2 separate regions of the Homo sapiens genome follow, and region 1 is linked to region 2. Evidence: fine-mapped expression QTL. A gene starts in region 2. The other region holds a variant in brackets. All regions are shown on one strand. Distances are from middle to middle. Region 1 overlaps PRODH2 (proline dehydrogenase 2). Region 2 holds the start of ARHGAP33 (Rho GTPase activating protein 33).

Region 1 (11,333 bases), 26 kb before region 2:
ACAGGTAACCCCTCCTGCTGGAACCAGCACCTCCGGGCCTCCCTCAGCCGCCTGCATCGGGTGGCACAGGTAACCCCTCCTGCTGGGATCTGGCTCCACTGCCCCTGCTGGACACCCGGGGCCCTGACCGTCGTCTCTGTCGCCATCAGTATGCCCGGGCCCAGCACGTGCGGCTCCTGGTGGATGCGGAGTACACCTCACTGAACCCTGCGCTCTCGCTGCTGGTGGCTGCCCTGGCTGTGCGCTGGAACAGCCCGGGTGAAGGCGGGCCCTGGGTGTGGAACACCTACCAGGCCTGTCTAAAGGTGTGCAGTGTGTTCCAGGAGGTACAGGCTGGGGTCCCCACACCCTGACCTACCAGAACCTGCCTGCGTGCCCTATAGGACACATTCGAGCGGCTGGGGAGGGATGCAGAGGCTGCGCACAGGGCCGGCCTGGCCTTCGGAGTGAAGCTGGTACGAGGTGCATATCTGGACAAGGAGAGAGCGGTGGCCCAGCTCCATGGGATGGAAGACCCCACTCAGCCTGACTATGAGGCCACCAGTCAGAGGTAGGCCCGGGCCAGCTGGCCTCTGCAGGAAATAATAACACCTAGTGGTTGGGTGCAGTGGCTCATACCTGTAATCCCAGTGCTTTGGGAGGCTGAGGCTAGAGATTCACTTGAGAGCAGGAGTTGGAGACCAGCCTGGGCAACACAGGGAGACCCCATCTCTAAAAAATTTTAAAAATAGTCAGGTGTGGTAGCACATGCCTGTGGTTCCAGCCACTTAGGAGGCTGAGGTGGGAGGATCACTTGAGGCCAGGAGTTCAAGGCTGCAGTGAGCCATGACTGCACCACTGCACTTCAGCCTGGGCAGCAGAGCGAGAATCTGTCTCAAAACAAACAAACAAACAAACAAACAAACAAAACAAAACAAAAAGAAATCCTTACAGTGGCCTCTAAGCCCCACATGCTCCCTGTCACTTCCCTAACTTTCCCTCCCTCTCTTCCTCTCCCTCACTCCACTACAGCCACACTGGCCTCCTCCATGTTACCCAGGGGCTTGGCACATCCTGTTTCCACTGCCTGGGACATTCCCACTGCAGACAGTGGCATGGCCCCATCCCTCACCTCCTTAGATCTTTACTTCTTGGTACCTTCTCTGGGGGCCACAGGGACTCAGCCAGGCTACAGAGCAGGTGGCCTAGCCACGCTTGGAATCCAGGCTCATGTCCAAGATCTGCAGGGGCTCCAGGGCACGTTTGTGTACCATCAGCTTAACTGGCACCAAGCCAGGCACAGTGGTGTGCACCTGTCATCCCAACTACTTGGGAGGCTGAGGCAGGAAGATTGCTTGAGCCCAGGGGTTTGAGCCCAATCTGCACAACATAGCAAGACCCCATCTGTAAAAAACATTAAACACAAAAAATTATGGCCGGGCATGGTGGCTCACGCTTGTAATCCCGGCACTTTGGGAGGCTGAGGCAGGCAGATCACCTGAGGTCAGGAGTTTGAGACCAGCCTGACAAACATGGTGAAACCCTGTCTCTACTAAAAATACAAAAATTAGCCGGGTGTGGTGGCTTGCACTGGTAATCCCAGCTACTTGGGAGGCTGAGGAAGGAGAATCACTTGAACCCAGGAGGCAAAGGTTGTAGTGAGCCAAGATTGAGCCACTACACTCCAGCCTGGGCGACAGAGTGAGACTCCATCTCAAAATAATAATAATAATTTGCACTATTATTTTAAATATTGAAATATAATTCACGTATCATAGAATTCACAATTTTAACATGTACAATTCAGTGGAGTTTAGTATATTCCCAAAATTGTGCAACCATCACCACTCTTTGATTCCACAATATTTTCATCACCCCAAAAAGTAACCTCATACCAATGAGCAGTCAGCTGCCTTCTGTTCCCTCCTCCCCTCAGCCCCTGGAAACCACTAACCTACTTTTTGTCTCTGTGGATTTGCCTATTCTAGACAATCTTATAAATGGAATCATACAATATGTGCCCTTGTATATTTGGCTTTTTTCATTTGTTTTTTAAGTTATTTTTGAGACAGGGTCTCACTCTGTCGCCCAGGCTGGAGTGCAGTGGTGCGATCTTGGCTCACTGCAGCCTTGACTCCCCAGGCCCAAGCCATCCTCCCACCTCAGTCTCCCCAGTAGCTAAGACCACCAGCGCACACCACCATACCCAACACATTTTTTTATTTTTGTAGACACGGGGTCTCCCTATGTTGCCCAGGCTAGTCTTGAACTCCTAGGCTGAAGCAGCCCTCCTGCCTTGGCCTCCCCAAGTGCTGGGATTATAGGCGTAAGCCAGCATGTCCAGCCACAACTGTGCATTTTAAAGGCAGACTAGCCTACCGATAAGGAGCCTGGGCTCTGGAGCATCAGACAGCCTGAGTTCAAATCCCAGCCTGGCCACCTCTAGCTGTGTGACCTGGGGACAAGAGATAGAACCCCTCTCAGCTTCAGTCTCCCCACTCTGTTAAAATGGAATAAGAACATCTGCCTCCCAGAGTTGATGTGGGAATTAGATGAGTGATTAGCTTTCTCCAAAGCAAACAGAATTCTGCACAAAGGGTTTTAACTAAAGGAAATGTGGTGAAGAGGCTGTTTATAGAAGTGTCAGGGGCCAGGTGCAGGGCCTCACACCTGTAATCCCAGCACTTTGGGAGCCCAAGGTGGGAGGATCGCTTGAGCCCAGGAGTTGGAGGATTCCGTGAGCCGAGATCACGCCACTGCACTCCAACCTGGGCAACAGAGTGAGACCCAGTCTCTAAAAAACACAAAACGAAAAGGAAGTGTGGGCAAAGTCAGGGAAGCTATTAGGAAGCTATTTTGACCCCTATGCTGTAGTTGAAGGAGAGGGGCCACCTTAGGGAGCTGTGGCCACACACAGAACACAGTCAGGGTGAGCAGGGAGGGGCCGAGGTGAGACACCCACACTCCTTCCTGCACATGACTCCATGGGGGATGTGGGGCAAAAGTGTCAGCTTCCTGAGGGGCAGAGAAGGGTAGAAAACAGGTCTGGGGG[GC/C]GATAGGGAAGACCCACAGAGGATGTGAAATACATAGCGTGGCCCGTGGCCTGCAGCATGCTTGCAAGGTGTTTGCCAATCTATTTCCTCTTCCATATCAGTACCCAGACAGTGTCTTCCTTCCTTTTCACAGTTGCGCGATAGAGCACTATCTTCTCTGTACCACAATTTCCTTAGCCAGTTCCCCATTTATGGACATTTGGGCTGTTGCTAGTGATGTTCTGTTGACAATGCAGCAGTGATAACCTTGGGGAAATGTCATCTTGTGCATGTGATGCGACCCTCTCCTGTGAGACCGCCGCCACTGTCCCAAAGACTTCATATCCCCCTTATCTCACTCCATCCTCACAACAGTGTTGCTCGGAAACTCACAGTGACAAGAGATTAACATGGGGCCGGGTGCGGTGGCTCACGCCTGTAATCCCAGCACTCTGGGAGGCTGAGGCGGGCAGATCACCTGAGGTCAGGAGTTCGAGTCCAGCCTGGGCAACATGGCGAAACTCCGTCTCTACTAAAAATACAAAAATTAGCCGGGTGTGATGGTGCACGCCTGTAATCCCAGCTGCTCGGGAGGCTGAGGCAGGAGAATCCCTTGAACCTGGGAGGTGGAGGTTGCAGTGAGCTGAGATCATGCCACTGCATTCCAGCCTGGGCAACAGAGTGACTCCATCTCAAAAACAAACAAACAAAACCCCCAAAAAACCCCAGAAGATGAAAGTGGCTCAGAGAAGTGATGTCCCTTACAACTGGTGCAGATGGAACAGAGTACTGGTTCCAGAGACCCCTTGCTTAGGAGCACCCCACCCACCCCAGTCGCTGGGGCCTGACCCTCGCTCACCAGGTGAGCTGAACAGAGCATCTCCCTTCAGTTACAGCCGCTGCCTGGAACTGATGCTGACGCACGTGGCCCGCCATGGCCCCATGTGCCACCTCATGGTGGCTTCCCACAATGAGGAATCTGTTCGCCAGGCAACCAAGCGGTATGAGGTGGAGGGATGGGCGGGAAATAGGTGCCCACAAAAGGGCCCTCCCTTCCTCTCCTTTGCTCAAATGCCAGAGATGGACAGAGGTGTTCTGGGGAGAATTTTAAAAATATTTATAGCCAGGCATGGTTGGCACATGCCTATAATCCCAACACTTTGGGAGGCGAAGGTGGAGGATTGTTTGAGACCAGCCTGGGCAACACAGCAAGACCCCATTTCTACAACAAATTAAAAAAAAAAAAACAGCTGGGTGTGGTGGCGCACACCTGTAGTCCCAGCTATTCCGGAGGTGGAAGGATCACTTGAGCCCAAGAGGTTGAGACTGCAGTGAGCAGTGCTTGAGCCACTGCACTCCAGCCTGGGTAACAAAGCAAGTCCCTACCTCTTAAAACAAACAAACAAACAAACACATTAACCCCTGCTATACCTGTAAGTCCTTATAGGTCCCAGATGGACAAGACGTTGCCCCTTATTTGCTGGGGCATGAGGAGGTCTGAGGGCTCCAGGGAACTGGCTGGGAGTCACTGGGGGACCTTCAAGGAATGCAAAGGACTGGTTATTATGTATCATTGAGTTTGGAAATACTTCAATGTTTGAATTACTGGAGCCGCCATATGGGTGCATAGTGGCTGACTTTAAGCTGTAGATGCAGCCACAGTCTGGACTGATGATGTGGCCTTTTCTGTAGCATGTGGGAGCTGGGCATTCCTCTGGATGGGACTGTCTGTTTCGGACAACTTCTGGGCATGTGTGACCACGTCTCTCTAGCACTGGGTATGTGAATGGCTCCCCCACCCCCATCAAGCCCCAGGCCTTACTCCCTCCCAGCCAGAGCCCTTCTCCTATTCCCAACCAAGGCCCAGCCTCCAGATCCTTCCAGAGAGATCTGTCATTCCAGTGTCTGTGGGCCTTCCAAGGCTGTGTCTCTGTGTCTGCCGTCTGTCATTTCTGCTGGTTCTTGATCATGGTGTATTATTTCTTGTGTGTTTTGTTATCTTTACTGTGCTGCTCCTCAGGGCCTGACACCAGGTAATTAATGTTTCCTTCTGCCAGGTGCTAAGCAGAACGAAATCACTTTATCCTAAATTCATAGCTTGAGGTTTCTTGAAACACCCCACTGGCACAAATTTGAGCTGCAAATACATAAGGGGGTTAACCCATAGCCCCAACTTCGCAGAGGTGGATTTTTCTGTTTTCTTCCTTGATCTGTTTATGGCCAAGACCATTTCCTGGGACTGGGGGAAGGTTGCAGGGTTGACTTTTTATTAACTCTTACTCTAAGGGTGTAGATTTTTGGGTTCCAGCTTAACTTGGGGAAGTTCTCCCTTATAACTCTCACCTCAGGCTTGAAGACTGACTCAATGTCCCCCCGCAACTCTGTGAATTCATCAGATAGCACCTCGGTTTTGCTTTTGGGGCAGAAGTGGCTTGCTGTGTGTCTCTTCTCTCTCTGGGTTCTCATTTTCTCTTTTATTTTATTTTATTTATTTATTTATTTTGAGACAGAGTCTTGCTCTGTTACCCAGGCAGGAGTCCAGTGGTGCCATCTTGGCTCACTGCAACCTTTGCCTCCCAGGTTCAAGCGATTCTCCTGCCTCAGCCTCCCAAGTAGCTGGGATTACAGACGGCTGCCACCACGCCCAGCTAATTTTTGTATTTTTAGTAGAGATGGGGTCTTACCATGTTTGCCAGGCTGGTCTCAAACTCCTGACCTCAGGTGATCTGCCTGCCTTGGCCTCCCAGAGTTGCTGGGATTACAGGCGTGAGCCACCACGCCCAGCTTATTTATTTTGTTTTTGAGACAGAGTCTGGCTCTGTCGCCCAGACTTGAGTGCAGTGGCACGATCTCAGCTCACTTCAACCTCCGCCTCCTGGGTTCAAGTGATTCTCCTGCCTCCGCCTCCCCAGTAGCCGGGATTATAGGCACGCACCACCATGCCCAGCCAATTTTTGTATTTTTAGTAGAGACGGGGTTTCACCATGTTGGCCAGGTTGGTCAGTGTGCTGAGATTGTGCCACTGCCCTCCAGCCAGGGCGACAGACCAAGACTCTGTCTCAAAATTAATTAATTAATTAATTAATCAATTGAGATAAAATAAAAACAGTTAGCTGGGCGTGGAGGTGCATGCCTGTGGTCCCAGCTATTCAGGAGGCTGAGGTGGGAGGATTGTTTGAGCCTGGGAGGTCAAAGCAGCAGTGAGTCGTGATCACACCACTGCACTCCAGCCTGGGCCACAGGGCTAGACCCTGTCTAAGAGAGAAAAAAAAAAGTTTGCTCCAGGACTTTTAGCTTTTTCAGTTAGAAATTTTATCCAACTCACTTAATCTGCCATGTTCTCAGAAACAGAAGTCTCTGTTCCAGGTGGGGACTGGGGAGTGTCCCCCCAGCCCAAGCCCATACCCTGTCAACACTCCAGGCTGGGCATGGTGGCTCACGCCTGTAATCCCAGCACTTTGGGAGGCCAAAGCAGGAGGATAACTTGAGGTCAGGAGTTCGAGACCAGCCTGGCCAACATGGTGAAACCCCATCTCTACTAAAAATACAAAAATGAGCCGGGCGTCGTGGCAAGCGCCTATAATCCCAGCCATTCTGGAGGCTGAGGCATGAGAATCGCTTGAACCTGGAGGCAGAGCTTGCAGTGAGCTGAGATTGCACCACTGCACTCCAGCCTGGGCAACAGAGCGAGACTCTGTCTCAGAAAAACACCAAAAACGAAAAAACAAAACCCACTCTCCCTGCAGGGCAGGCCGGCTATGTAGTGTATAAGTCCATTCCCTATGGCTCCTTGGAGGAGGTAATCCCCTACCTGATCCGGAGGGCCCAGGAGAACCGGAGCGTGCTTCAGGGTGCCCGCAGGGAACAGGAGCTGCTCAGCCAAGAACTGTGGCGGCGGCTGCTGCCAGGATGCCGAAGGATACCCCACTAGCACCCCTGAGGGGGTCATGTGGTCAATAAAAGTCCTTAGGTGCTGCCTAAGCTGCTGTCCTGCACTGACGCCGCCTCCTTGGGGAAGGGCTCATCTTGACCTCAGCCAGCCCAAGCTAGGGGTTTTGCAGTTCAAGAGAGATCGTTAGGCTGGGAGTGGTAGCTCTCGCCTATACTCCCAGCGCTTTGGGAGGCCGAGGTGGGAGGCGTGCTTCAGTCTAGGAGTTCAAGACCAGCCTGGGCAACATAGCAATATTCTTTCTCTACAAAAAATTAAATCAGTAGGGCATGGTGGTGCGTGCCTGTGGTCCCAGCTCGGGAGGCTGAGGCAGGAGGATCACTTGAGCCCAGGGGTTTGAGGCTGCAGTGACCTATGACTGCACCACTGCTCTCCAGTCTGGGTGACAGCAAGAGACTGTGTTTAAAAAAAAAAAAAGAAAAGAAAAGAAAAAGAGGCCGGGCACGGTGGCTCACGCCTGTAATCCCAGCAGTTTGGGAGGCCGAGGCGTGTGGATAACGAGGTCAGGAGATCGAGACCATCCTAGCTAACATGGTGAAACCCCGTCTCTGCTAAAAATACAAAAAATAGCCGGGCGTGGTGGCAGGCGCCTGTAGTCCCAGCTACTCGGGAGGCTGAGGCAAGAGAATGGCATGAATCCAGGAGGCAGAGCTTGCAGTGAGCTGAGATCACGCCACTGCACTCCAGCCTGGGCAACAGAGTGAGACTCAGTCTCAAAAAAAAAAAAAAAGAAAAGAAAAAAAAAAAAAAGATCGTTAGACACCCATTGAGCATAGCCAGGGCATTGACGGAGGACTAAGGAAGCCTCCCTCACCTCTGAGGCAGACCATCCTGGGTTGGGTCTGGCCAGTGACTGATGCAGAACTTTCTTCATCCCAGGGGATGCCTAAAGGAAGGGCACACATGGGGAGCAGACACCAAGGCACTGAAGTCAAGGGGCTCGGCCCAGGCCACTTGGCGAGGGAGGGACAGAAGAAAGAGCCAAGCCATTCTCTCAGTTAATAAGCATTGAATGAAACTAGGTGCAGTGACTCATGCCTGTAATCCCAGCACTTTGGGAGACCAAGGCAGGTGGATTGCTTGAGGTCAGGAGTTTGAGACCAGCCTGGGCAACATAGTGAAACCCCATTATCTCTCAAAAAAAAAAAAAAAAAAAAAAGAAAGAAAGAAATTAGCTAGCCAGGTGCTGTGGCTCACACCTGTAATCCCAGCACTTTGGGAGGCTGAGGCCGGCGGATCACGAGGTCAAGAGATCGAAACCATCCTGCCCAACATGGTGAAACCCTGTCTTTACTAAAAATACAAAAATTAGCCAGGCGTGGTGGCACTCGCCTGTAATCCCAGCTACTTGGGAGGCTGAGGCAGGAGAATCACTTGAACCTGGGAGATGGAGGTTGCAGTGAGCCAAGATCGTGCCACTGCACTCCAGCCTGGCGACAGAGCAGGACTCCATCTTAAAAAAAAAAAAAAAAATTAGCTAGGTGTGGTGGGTGGCCTGTGCTTGTAGTCCCAGCTACTTGGGAGGCTGAGGCAGGAGGTTGGCTTGAGCCCTGGAGGTGGAGGCTGGAGTGAGCTATGATCTTGCCACTGCACACCAGCCCGGGCAACAGAGTGAGATCCTGTCTGAGAAAAACGCCAGGTGCAGTGGCTCATGCCTGTAATCCCAGCACTTTGGGAGGCCGAGGCGGGCAGAAGTCAGGAGATTGAGACCAGCCTGGCCAACATGGTGAAACCCCGTGTCTACTAAAAATACAAAAATGAGCCGGGCATGGTGGCGTGCGCCTGTAATCCCAGCTACTCGGAAGGCTGAAGAAGGAGAATTGCTTGAACCTGGGAGATGCAGGTTGCAGTGAGCCGAGATCGCGCCACTGCACGCCAGCCTGGGCGACAGAGTGAGAATAAAAGCACTGAATGAGGCCTCTTTTGAGCTAGGTTCTGGGGTGAACAACGCTGTGAACACAACAGTGACAAGAACGACCCAAGGCCCTGCCTTACAGGGCTTAGTCCGGTGTGGGTAGACAGCCCCGTCCTCAGACAGTGACAGCCCCGACTGGTCAGGGCTGTGGGGCCCAGGCTGAGTGGCTGGGGCTGTGTTGGGGAAGGGGATGCTACTGCGCAGGCGCTGCGGGAGGCCACTGGTGCTCAAGCACCTCGGATTCCCGCTCATACAGCCGGCCGGATCATGTGGCAGTCAGGTGGCGACCACTATCTAGCCCAACGGTGAGTGCAAAGCCACCAGGACTGGGGTGTGGGCCCAGAACTTTCCCAGAGCTTTCTGGGCCCTCAGATCACCCTCAGACCCTTCCCCCAGCCCTCAGGCCCCTCCCACCCTGTCCTTCTCTTCCGCGGCCCTCAGACCACACCCCTGCCCGCCCCTTTAGCGAACCCTTTCCCCATTCCACTGACCCCTTCCCCAGCCCCAGACACTGTCCTCAGAGCCCCCTTCCCCAGCCTGTAGCCCCCACCCCCAACACACAGACACTTCCCTAGTCCTTAGTCCACGCGTCCCACCCGCGGACCCCCGCACAGTCGGCAGATCCTGCCATCAGCGCCCTCTCCTCCTTCAGAGCGCGCCCGCTGCCCTCAGACCCCATCCACCCCACGGACCCCACAGACGCTGTCCCTAGAGCCTCCCCATGACCCCTCTCACCGCCTCTCAGATCCTAAACCACAGGCGCCTCATCCTCCCACCGCAGCCTTCAGAGCCTCCTCCTGAGCCCTCCGACTCCTTTCCCAAGCTCGGATCCTATCCTCGCAGCCCTTCTGCCACCCTGGCACGCCCGACCCCAGCCCTAAGCCCCCTCCCAGACTCCCGATTGCCTTAGATCCCCCTCAGCTCTCAGCCTCCCTGCGACCCCAGACCTTCTGGTGTGTCGCCCTCCCAGAGCCACCCCCTTTTCTCATTCAGCCACCTCCCTTCCCATCAGACCCCTCCTAAATCCCGTTCCCGTCTAGACTGCGCCCCCAGGACCCCCAGCCAGCTCTGTCTTCATTGTTTTGTTGTGCCCAAAGTTCCAGTCCTTCACATCCCCCTTCCCTGATGAGACCCCCCTAGCGGATCCCTGCCCAGGAGCCGACTGAGCCGCAGCCCACAGATGCCCTCGCAGCCCTTTCGCGCTTCCCAGTGGAGCTGGGCTCCAAGAGGGATCTAGACACCCAGGTGGGCCGTCTGCACCACCTGGCTGTGGCTGGGGGCCCAGGATGGGGCCCGGCCAGGCTCCTGCGGAGAGGTGAGGGCCTGGCTGCAGGTACATCTGTGGCGGCAGGATCAAGGAGCTGTATGGAGGGTGTGGCTTCAGTTGGCCAGTCAGCAGTGGTACCGAACACCGACTGTGTCCCGAGCTCTGTGGTCCCTGATGGGGCTTTAAGGGTGAACATGACCCTTGGACCATTGGGAATGAAATGCAGTGGGATGAGGATGAGACCCTAGACAGTATGGCCTTTCAGGTGGAGGATGCTTGAGTCTTACAGTATAAGAGTCAGCCACGCAAAAAAGGTGAAATGAAGTGGGGAGAGATGGTGGGGTGCAATGGCTCATGCCTGTAATCCCAGCAGTTTGGGAGGCCGAGGCAGGCGGATCACTTGAGGTCAGGAGTTTGAGACCAGCCTAGCCATCATGGTGAAACCTCGTCTCTACTAAAACTACAAAAATCAGCCAGGCATGGTGGCATGTGCCTGTAATCCCAACTACTTGGGAGGCTGAGGCAGGAGAATCATTTGAACCCGGAAGACAGAGGTTGCAGTGAGCTGAGATTGTGCCATTGCACTCCAGCCTGGGCAACAGAGCGAGACCCCGTCTCAAAAGAAAAAAAAAAAGAAGTGGGGAGTGATGGAAGAGGCTGTGCAAACGCTCTGAAGTCAAAATGAACTGCCCATGTATGAGTAGCAGCAGGACTTGGAGAGACGTGAGGCTGAAGTGGCCACAAGTCCACACAGTTAAGGGCCTCTAAAGGAGTGTGAGTTTTGTTGGATTTTGTGTGTGTGATAGGAAACTGTTGGCATTGTAAGCAGGAAATTAACATAATTAACATTAAATTAGGCTGGGCAACCTGTTCCACATGGCTCACACCTATAATCCCAGCACTTTGGGAAGCCGAGACAGGAGGATTGCTTGAGTCCAGGAGTTTGAGACCAGCCTGGGCAACATAGCAAGACCCTATCTCTATTTTAAAAAAATTACCAGGGAGTGGTGGCATCATATGCCTGTAGTCCCAGCTACTTGGGAGGCTGAGCAGGGAGGATTGCTTGAGCCCAAAAGGTCAAGGCTGCACTGAGCCTTGATCAGGCCACTGCACTCCAGCCTGGGCAACAGAGTGAGACCCTGTCTCAAAACAATAACCCATTAAATTAACAATGTACAATTTCTGTTTTGA
Region 2 (9,468 bases):
CTAGATTCCTGTTTGTAGGGATGCAGCCCTGGCACCCTCTGCGGGTGGGGAAACCTCTAAGAAAAACCCCTTTATTTCCCCTCACATGTCCCAGGACTCTCCCACCCAAAGGCTTCCCCACCTGAAGGCTTCCCCATCCACCTCTGCACCTTCATCCTCCACAGCAGATGCCACACGGTTGCCATCTAAAATCTCTCTGTGCTGGGCGTGGTGGCACACGCCTGTAATCCCAGCACTTTGGGAGGGTGAGCCTGGAGAATTGCTTGACCCCAGGAGTTCAAGACCAGCCTGGTCAACATAGCAAAACTCTGTCTCTACAAAACATTTTTTTTTAATTAGCCAGAGGCCAGGCACAGTGGCTCATGCCTATAATCCCAACACTTTAGGAGGCTGAGGTGGGCGGAACACCTGAGGTCAGGAGTTTGAGACCAGTCTGACCAACATGGAGAAACCCAGTCTCTACTGAAAATATAAAATTAGCCGGGCGTGGTGGCACATGCCTGTAATCCCAGCTACTCAGGAGGCTGAGGCAAAAGAATCACTTGAACCTGGGAGGCAGGGGTTGTGGTGGGCGAGATCATGCCACTGCACTCCAGCCTGGGCAACAAGAGTAAAACTCCATCTCAAGAAAAGAAAAAAAACCCCTCTGGTTTAAGCCACTCATAGCCAGGTGTTCTGTGAGTTACAGCCCAACCCATTTCTAACTGATATACATTTAAACCCTTGTATCCTTAAAGCCGAACACCTGCTAACACACACACGTGCACACACACACATGCTCACACACATTCTCTCACAGGCATGCGCCCACACAGACACTAAAATATCAACGCCTCCTCCACTCTGGCTCCTTTCTTTTCTATGCCCACACACACACCGAGGCTGCTTCTCGCCCCTCAGACACCCCCTCACCCACTCGGAATCTCCAAGCCCCCTGCCCAGGCCCACCTCCATCCAGGTGAGCACAGGCCCGCAGTTGAGGTTACTGTCCACCAGTCCTGACAGTGTCTCCAGGTACTGCAGCAGCAGTGGCACCAGCATCTGGGGGCAGGTTGTCAGAGTGGGCCTCTGTGAGTGGACGTGAGAGAGCCCACTGCCCTCCCACACTGCCCTAGCTCGTCTCTGGGCTGAAGTTCATCCTGAACACATGGGTGCTGCTCAGCTGTTAGGTACTGAGATATGGGCATATGAATGAATAAGCAGGCTGGGCCAAGCTCTTGAGTACCCTGGTTGGCATGACCATGGTGACCCTCCCATGGGACCCCCTGGAACTCCCCATGATCCTAAAACTTAGCAAAGCTAAATGTAGCAGAAGCCTACTACGTTTCTAAGGCTTCTCCATTCATTCAGATTGGTTGGGACTTGGGCCATACCAGTATTTAAATATTTCTCTATCCCGCTGCCTTGATGATTTCACACTGTGGATGAGGACACACTCATGAGGCAGGGGCTGAGACAACAAGCAGGTTACCTGGGCAGCCCTGGCACCCTCGGGGGGCGGGGGAAGCTCCGGAAGGCAGGAGAACCTCCGGTCAAATATGCACCGGTGGAGGTGGGCATCCAGGGAACGAAAGTCATCGTAACTCCGGAGAACCGGCCAGGAACGGCCCTGTGGGAGCAGAGGGACAGAAGGGAGCAGGGGCCCCATGACACCGAGCTGAGGACTACAGTGGCCATTCTCTCAGGCTAGATGAGAGGCGGGATGGCCTCACCTGACAGGTCACCTGCACCCCGAACACCAGCTCATTCTCTCCAGAGAGGCTGGGCCCTTCACGGTCTGGAGACAGCAGGAGCTGCAGAGGGAAAGCAAGGCCCAGGTGGACTTTTGTCCCAGTCCTGACCTCCTGGGGATGGCACTATCTAGGGACGGGTTTGTGACTCCCTTCTGGACCTCCCCGAGGACAGGGCCTGGTGATGTCCTGGTCCCTGACATAGAGCAGATACCTAACAAAAGTTGTTGTTGAATGAATAAAAGAACAAATGGATGAATGAATGAGCAGCTCTCCCCATCTGCTGTGGCTCCTGCAACTTTTGCTACTGACTGCTCAGACGCGTGCAGCAGCCAGTCACAGGGATAAGTTTCAGAAGCAAAGCACCTGATATCGTTGCAAGGTTGGGTAGGATATTGTCTTCCCTCCTGGGTGCAAATGCAAAGCCCCCATACCTGAATGTGGCCAAAGTCAACGTTCTCGTAGTGGAAATGGGCGCAGTCAGCCAGCCGCGGGAAGGGGCCTCGAGGAGCTGAGAGCCTGGGAGACAGGGGATGCGTCACCAGCAGCTCCTTGAGTCTCCCCAGCTCCTAGCTGAGCCCTTTCCTCCCTCACCCTCACCTCTTCCCAGGCTTCCCCTTCACACTGGGCCCCCCAGCAGTGGGTAGAGGCTGCACCGAGCCCTCCCCTGGGCCATCCAGGCTGTCAGTGCTGCGTGCCTGTAGAGCAGAAAGAATCAGAGGCCCCCAGAGATGGGAGCAAAGAGACAACGAGAGCATTGTTATCTGGCAGCGCGGGTCCAGAGCCCCGGGCGCTCCACACACCGCCCTGAGCATGAAGCAGGATGGCAGGTCGGGGGAGGTGAGGGCTGGGCTGAGGACAGGACTGCTTCTTCGTGTGTGGTCTGGGGTGGGGGACTGGAGAAGCAGGGGCCAGACGTGAGGCGGGGCAACAGGATGGAGAGCATGCTGGTCCCATCTCTCCCTGCTGAAAACCCTTCCGTAGCCCCTGCAGAGTACAGTGATCTCCTACCACTGTCTAGACAATCACAACTCCCATCTCATCAGCCTTCCTGCTTCCAGCCTCTCCCCTCCTGCCAGCTTTTCCGCAATAGCCTGGATCGTTTTCAGAAAACACAAATCTGGCTCTATTTCTCCATAGATCCTGGGCCTTCAATGACTCCCTGTTGTCTTCAAGACGAAGTCTGAATTCTCTGGTCTGATAATCGAGACTTCCCTGAGCTGATTTCTGTTTACCTCTCCAGTCCCATCTCTTCCCATTGCCCCCACTCTCAGAGCTCTTGAACTTCTAAGAGTCCAAAAAAAGCACCCTCTTCTCATTTCCTTCTAGGCCTTTGCAAAGGCTGTTCCCTCAGCCTGGAACACTCGCCCCACCTTTCCCTGGGTACATTCATCCTCACTCCCACCCCTCAGGTCCCAACTCACATGTGCCCTCCTCCAGGAAGTTCTCCCTGACCCTTCAGGCTGCACCTGGCATCTCCTCTGGACTCTCTCCATCCCCTGAGGTTCCCCCATCCCAGGTTCCATGCCTTGACCAGAGCTTCTCCCTTCACAGCTCTGATCACTCTGAGATGGCACTGGTGGTGACAAGTTCATCTCTCTCATTGGACTATGACCGGCCTCCCAGAAGGAGGGCCCCAGACTGAGCTCCCCAGCATAGAGCTGGGCATTGAGTTGGTGTTCAGACATGATTGTTCCTGATTCTTTTCTGGGTCCCCAGTGCCAGCCCAGTCGCGCGCAGCAGGGACTGGGTAAAATCTGATGAATAAATTAACCAGCTGCCAGACAGATTCACTGGGCTGTAGCGTCTCCCTGCTCCATGTCCCTGCAACCCCCAGTCACCCTCAGGGTCTCACCCTCAGGGTCTGTCCCCCTCCAGCCCATAAGGTTCCCCAAGGCAGGATGGGAGCTGACTCTCTCTGTGCCTGGAGCGTGGGGCCTGCACAGAGGCGGTCTCAGTGAATGTCTGCTAAGTGAGGGAATGAATGGATGAATGAGCGGGAGCAGCATGGTGGGAGAGGGAAATGGTGGGGGAGGGGGATGAGGACAAGGAGATGGAGCAGACCCGAGGATCAAGGGAGGTACAGTGCTGGCCTGTTGGGGTGGAGTAAGGAAGGAGTGGCTGGAGAGACGAGGCAAAGGCTCAGACTGATGCGGGGCGGGGGGGATTGAGAGGAACTGGGATAGGGTGAAAATGAGGGAGAAGGAGAAGAAAAGGGTCAGGCTGGGGATGGAGCGGGTGGGGGGTGGGGCTCGGGAATGAGAAAGGGGCTGTGGGGAGGAGGAGGGGGCTCCGCCGGGGAGGGCTGAGGGCTGGCAGAAGGATGCCGAGGAAGGTGCTGGGATGGGAGCTGGGGAAGGACCCAGGAGCCTCAGGAGGCCCCTGCAGGGGCCACTTGGGTGGCGCGGGTCCCTTCCTGGACTAGCCCCGCCTCCTCCCAGCCCAGGCCCTAGGTCCCTGTCACCCCATCCAGGGCGTGGAAGACGGGGATGCGCGCTTAGGGGGCGGGGTCGAGGTACGGGCTGGGACCCGGGATGGGGCCGCAGGACGGGAGGGACCACGGCTGAAGCACAGGCCGCGGGATCGGGCGGGGCCGGGGGCGGGGCGCGCGGGGCGGGGCTGCGCACGGACAGACTGACATCCGGACGGACAGGCTGACGGCCGCGTGGGACCCTTACCACCATGGTCGCGTAGCCTCCTCAGGCCCCGGCCGCGCTCGACCCCTCGCTCGCCGTTCTCGTCGCCGCTGCCGCCGCCATGGCGACACAAAGGGGAGGGCGCGAGCCGCGCGCGGGCGGCTGCAGACCCCGCCCCTAACGGCTGCCCGTGGCTCCGGCGCGCGCCCCACGGGGGCGGGGGGCAGCGGGAACGCGGCGCTGCTTCTCATTGGCTCCGCCCTTGGCCTTAGGCCGATGCCCCGCCCACCCGGAGGCTTCTCATTGGTTTCACCTTGGGCTCCGCCCCGGCTCTGTGTCCTCGGTCCCGCCCCTCGAAGTTTGACAGCGCCACGCCCATGACTGCTTTTCATTGGCTGTCATCGCCCTCCTGAGACAAGCCCCCAGGTTCTTTATGCTTTGCTTCCGACACTTCCAACACCAAGCAATGGACCCTACCTTTCGTCCACTCCCAGTGTCCATTCTTCTGACTTTTTTATTTTTATTTCTTTAAGAGACAGGGTCTCACTCTGTCGCCCAGGCTGGAGCGCAGTCCTGCAATCGTGGCTTACTGCAGCCTCAACCTCCTGGGCTCAAGCGATACCTCCCATGTAGCTGGGACTACAGGCGTGCGCTACCACGCCTGGCTAATTTTTTTTAGACATGGGGGTCTCACTATGTTACCCAGGATGGTCTTGATCTCTGGGGCTCAAGAGATACTCCCTCCTCAGCCTCCTTTCAAAGCGCTGGGATGACAGGCGTGAGCCACCACGCCAGCCAGCCCCTGATAGTCTTAATTGGATTCTCCCACGGCCTCAGAGCAGTGCCCAGTTCCTTAAGCAGCTTTTCAAAGTCCCAGTCCCAAGTCTCACCTTTTCAGTCCTGATCCCGACCCCGCTCACATAATGCCGAGGACGCTCCGCCCATGGACGTTTCTCGTTGCCTCATATACCTTGCCTAGGACGTAACCCGAGGCTTTCTGCGATTTGGCCTCCCCTGCCCACTGGACATTTTCTTGTTTCCCCTTCTACTGCTTATTACGGGCCAATCTCCAGCCTTGATTTTTTTTTTCTAGGAAAATGCTTAGGGGGAAATGCCAGATCATGCTTATGCCCCCCATAAAGCCATTCCCAATGGAGCCTGCTAATACTGAGCATGCCCAGATAACACTGTAATAACGCCCTTCACAGGAGGGTCTCTCCTTAGTCATGCCCTCAACAAATTCTCATCTCAGAGGGTCTTGGTCTGTTCATTCATTCATTCATTCATTCATTCACTCAAACTCTAATCAATTTGTACATACATCAACAACCAAACCAGGAGAAAATATACCCTGCCCACATTGGAGCTCAAAAGCTACTGGGAGAAGACAATGAACAAAATTAACATTAAACAAAATATAGAATATTAGGCCAGGCGTGGTGGCTCACGCCTGTAATCCCAACACTTTGGGAGGCCGAGGCGGGCAGATCACTTGAGGTCAGGAGTTCGACACCAGCATGGCCAGCATGGAGAAACCCCGTCTCTACTAAAAATACAAAAATTAGCCAGGTGTGGCGGCGGGCGTGCCTGTAATCCCAGCTACCTGGGAGGCTGAGGCAAGACAATGGGTTGAACCCAGGTGGCAGAGTTTGCTGTGAGCCGAGATCGCGCCACTGCACTCCAGCTTAGGTGTTGAAGTGAGACTCTGTCTCAAAAAAAAAAAAAAAAAAAAAAAAAAAAAGCTGGGGACAGTGGCTCACGCCTGTAACCCCAGCACTTTGGGAGGCCGAGGCGGGAGGATCACAAGGTCAGGAGTTCGAGACCAGCCTGGCCAATATGCTGAAACCCCGTCTCTACTAAAAATACAAATATTAAAATTAGCCAGGTGTGGTGGCGTGTGCCTGTAATCCCAGCTACTCAGGAGCCTGAGACAGGAGAATTGCTTGAACCCAGGAGGCGGAGGTTGCAGTCAGCCGAGATTTTGCCACTGCACTCCAGCCTGGGAGACAGAGCAAGACTCTGTCTGAAAAAAAAAAAAAATATTAGAAGGTGATTCATTCTATGGAGAATAATTAAGCAAGGGCTGGTGAAAGGGAGTGCTGAGGGAGAGGTGAATGTGCAGTTACTTATGTACTAAATTTGCTGACCTCACTCTCATCACAGGGATTTCCCACACGATATTCCTTCTGTCTAGTGTTTCCCCATCAACCCCTGCAGTGATTTTTTTTTTTATTTTTTAATTTTTCTGGGTACATAACAGGTATATTTAGGTATATATATTGAGGGGGCACATGAGATGTTTTGATACAGGCATGCAATGTGTAATAATCACATCATGGAGAATGGGGTCCTGCAGTGATTTTAAAACAGCTGCAAATTCTCTGACACTCTTCTTATCAAGACGCGGACTCTATGATTGCTTTCTATGAATCTGGGTGGGACTAGGATAGCTTCAACCAATAGAAAACAGTGGAAGTGACACGGTGATTTCTAAGGCTATGTGATGAAAGGCAATGCAGCTTCTTGACCAATGTTCTCGTCCACTGGAATGAGCTGTAGAACCATGGTGCATCATATGCGAAGTGTGACTATGCTGAAGCAGACATGCTTTGAGGAAGCCCAGGCCAATGGAGCTATGTATAGGCATTAGTCAATAGTCCCAGTCAGACTGGGAGAAGACCACGGAAGAAGTTCTGGAGGATTCTACTCCACAGCCATCAAGTCTATCAAGTCACCTTTGAGTCTTTCCAGGTGAATCCCCAGACATCATGGAGGAGACAAAAATTGTCCCCATATGAGCCCTGTCCAAACCTCTGACTCTCAGAATCCATGAGCATAATAAAATAATTGTTTTATGCCACTAAGTTTTGGGAGCGGTTATCCAACTAGAGTAATTAGGACAGCCCTTTGTTAACTAGATAATTTCTACCTGTCTCAGCTTAAGTGTAACTTCCTCAGGAATGCTTCTAGACCCCACCCGTGACCCAGCTAGATCAGGTTCTGCTACTATAGTATCTTTTATTTCTCCTTATATCTAAACAGCTATTTTTCTTGTCAATTACATTTTTTTGTTAGTTTGTTTGTTTTTGAGATGGAGTCTCACTCTGTTGCCCAGGCTGAAGTGCAGTGGCACCATCTCAACTCACTGCAGCCTCCGCCTCCCATGTTCAAGCAATTCTCCTGCCTCAGCCTCCTGAGCACCTGGGACTACAGGCACCCGCCACCAGGCCCAGCTAATTTTTAGTGGAGACAGAGTTTCACTATATTGCCCAGGCTGGTCTCTAACTCGTGACCTCAAGTGATCTGCTCGCCTTGGCCTCCCAAAGTGCTGAGATTACAGGCCTGTGCCACTGTGCCCACTCTGATTTCATTTAAATGTATGGTTTGCTTAGAAAGGTTAGAAACAGGCCGGGTGCGGTGCCTCACACCTGTAATCCCAGCACTTTGGGAGGCCGGGGCAGGTGGATCATGAGGTCAGGAGTTCGAGACCAGCCAGACCAACATGGTGAAACCCTGTCTCTACTAAAAACACACACACACACACAAATTAGCCAGGTGAGGTGGCATGCACCTATAATCTCAACTACTCGGAAAGCTGAGGAAGGAGAATCACTTGAACCTGGAAGGCAGAGGTTACAGTGAGCCGAGGTTGCACCACTACACTCCAGCCTGGGTGACAGAGCAAGACTCCATCTCAAAAAAAAAAAAAAAAAAAAAGAAAGAAAGAAAGGTTGAAAACAAATATTATATTTACCATGTGACATACAGAAGTTACTAGAAATCCATCTTATCCCTCCATTTTGTAAATGCAGATATCAAAACAACCCCAATCATATATTCTCCATCATTTTATTATGAAAAGTTTCTTTTCTGAGACGGAGTCTCGCTCTGTCACCCAGGCTGGAGTGCAGTGGCGCAATCTCGGCTCACTGCAAGCTCTGCCTCCCAGGTTCAAGTGATTCTCCTGCCTCAGCCTTCCGAGTAGCTGGGGCTACAGGCGCCCGCCACCACGCCCGGCTAATTTTTTGTATTTTTAGTAGAGACGGGGTTTCACCGTGTTAGCCAGGATGGTCTCGATCTCCTGACCTCGTGATCCGCCCGCCTTGGCCTCCCAAAGTGCTGGGATTACAGGCATGAGTCACCGCGCCCGGCCATGAAAAGTTTCTAAATTACAGCAAAGTTGAAAAATTTTACAGTGGACACCCGCATATCCGCCACTTAGATCCTACCATGAACACTTTGCTGTATTTGCTTTATCTCACATCTACCTATTACACTATTTATCCATCAATCCAACTCATCTCTGGATGCATTTCAAAATAAATTGTCGACATTGGTTTATTGTTCCCTAAATATTTCAGTGTACATACTTTTTTTTTTCTTTTCTTTTTTTTAAAGACAGGGTCTAGCTCTGTAGCCCAGGCTGGAGTGCAGTGGCATGATCTTAGTTCACTACAATACAGCCTTGAACTCCTGGGCTCAAGTAAACCTCCTGCCTCAGCGCCCCTCCCCGCCCCTAGTAATGGGACTGCAAATCGTGTGCCACCACATCTGGCTATTTATTTACTTATTTATTTTTGTAGAGACAGGTCTTGCTGTGTTGCCCAGGGTAGTCTCAAACTCCTGGCCTCAAGTGATCCTCCCGCCTTGGCCTCCCAAAGAAGTCAGATTACAGGCGTATCTTTAACTGGCGTTCAATATTTTCTTTTGAGGTAAACTTTACATACAATGAAATTCACACACTTCACTAAGTTTCATAAGTGCATACACCTGTGTAACCCAAACCCCTCCCCAGCATGGCAACTAGTTTTTTTTTTTAATGTAGCCTCTAAAGCAAGTGTCAGAGAGAGAGAGAAAGAGAGAGAAATTATCTTTTTTTTTTTTTCCACTGCAACCTCTGCCTTCTGAGTTCAAGCAATTCTCTTGCCTCAGCCTCCTGAGTAGCTGGGATTACAGGCACCCACCACCAATGCCTGGCCAATTTTTGTATTTTTAGTAGAGACATTTCACCATGTTGGCCAGGCTGGTCTTGAACCCCTGACCTCAAGTAATCTGCCCACCTGAGCCTCCCAAAGTGCTGGGATTACAGGCGTGAGCCACCA

Evidence for each region.
Region 1: its variant is fine-mapped to the expression of ARHGAP33 in whole blood (TOPMed, PIP above 0.99).

The regions. Positions count from the first base shown.
Region 1 is chr19:35,795,647-35,806,979 of GRCh38, reverse strand. It overlaps PRODH2 (proline dehydrogenase 2), which reads left to right. Exons shown (of 10, transcript NM_021232.2): 6 at 150-305; 7 at 384-550; 8 at 3,902-4,012; 9 at 4,704-4,789; 10 at 6,758-6,992. The coding sequence ends at 6,942. It also overlaps the pseudogene TEX14BP. Among named protein-coding and RNA genes, the nearest start is that of PRODH2, 12 kb to the left of the region's middle. RefSeq lists an enhancer at 1-47. The variant GC/C (reference allele first, on the strand shown) is at 3,032.
Region 2 is chr19:35,770,605-35,780,072 of GRCh38, reverse strand. It overlaps ARHGAP33 (Rho GTPase activating protein 33), which reads right to left and starts at 4,509. Exons shown (of 21, transcript NM_001366178.1): 1 at 4,409-4,509; 2 at 2,331-2,428; 3 at 2,165-2,249; 4 at 1,713-1,793; 5 at 1,472-1,609; 6 at 949-1,041. The coding sequence starts at 4,414. PROSER3 (proline and serine rich 3) reads right to left here. Exons shown (of 11, transcript NM_001367856.1): 11 at 8,907-9,468. RefSeq lists enhancers at 1,166-2,050, 2,051-2,936, 4,958-5,017 and a silencer at 4,248-4,727.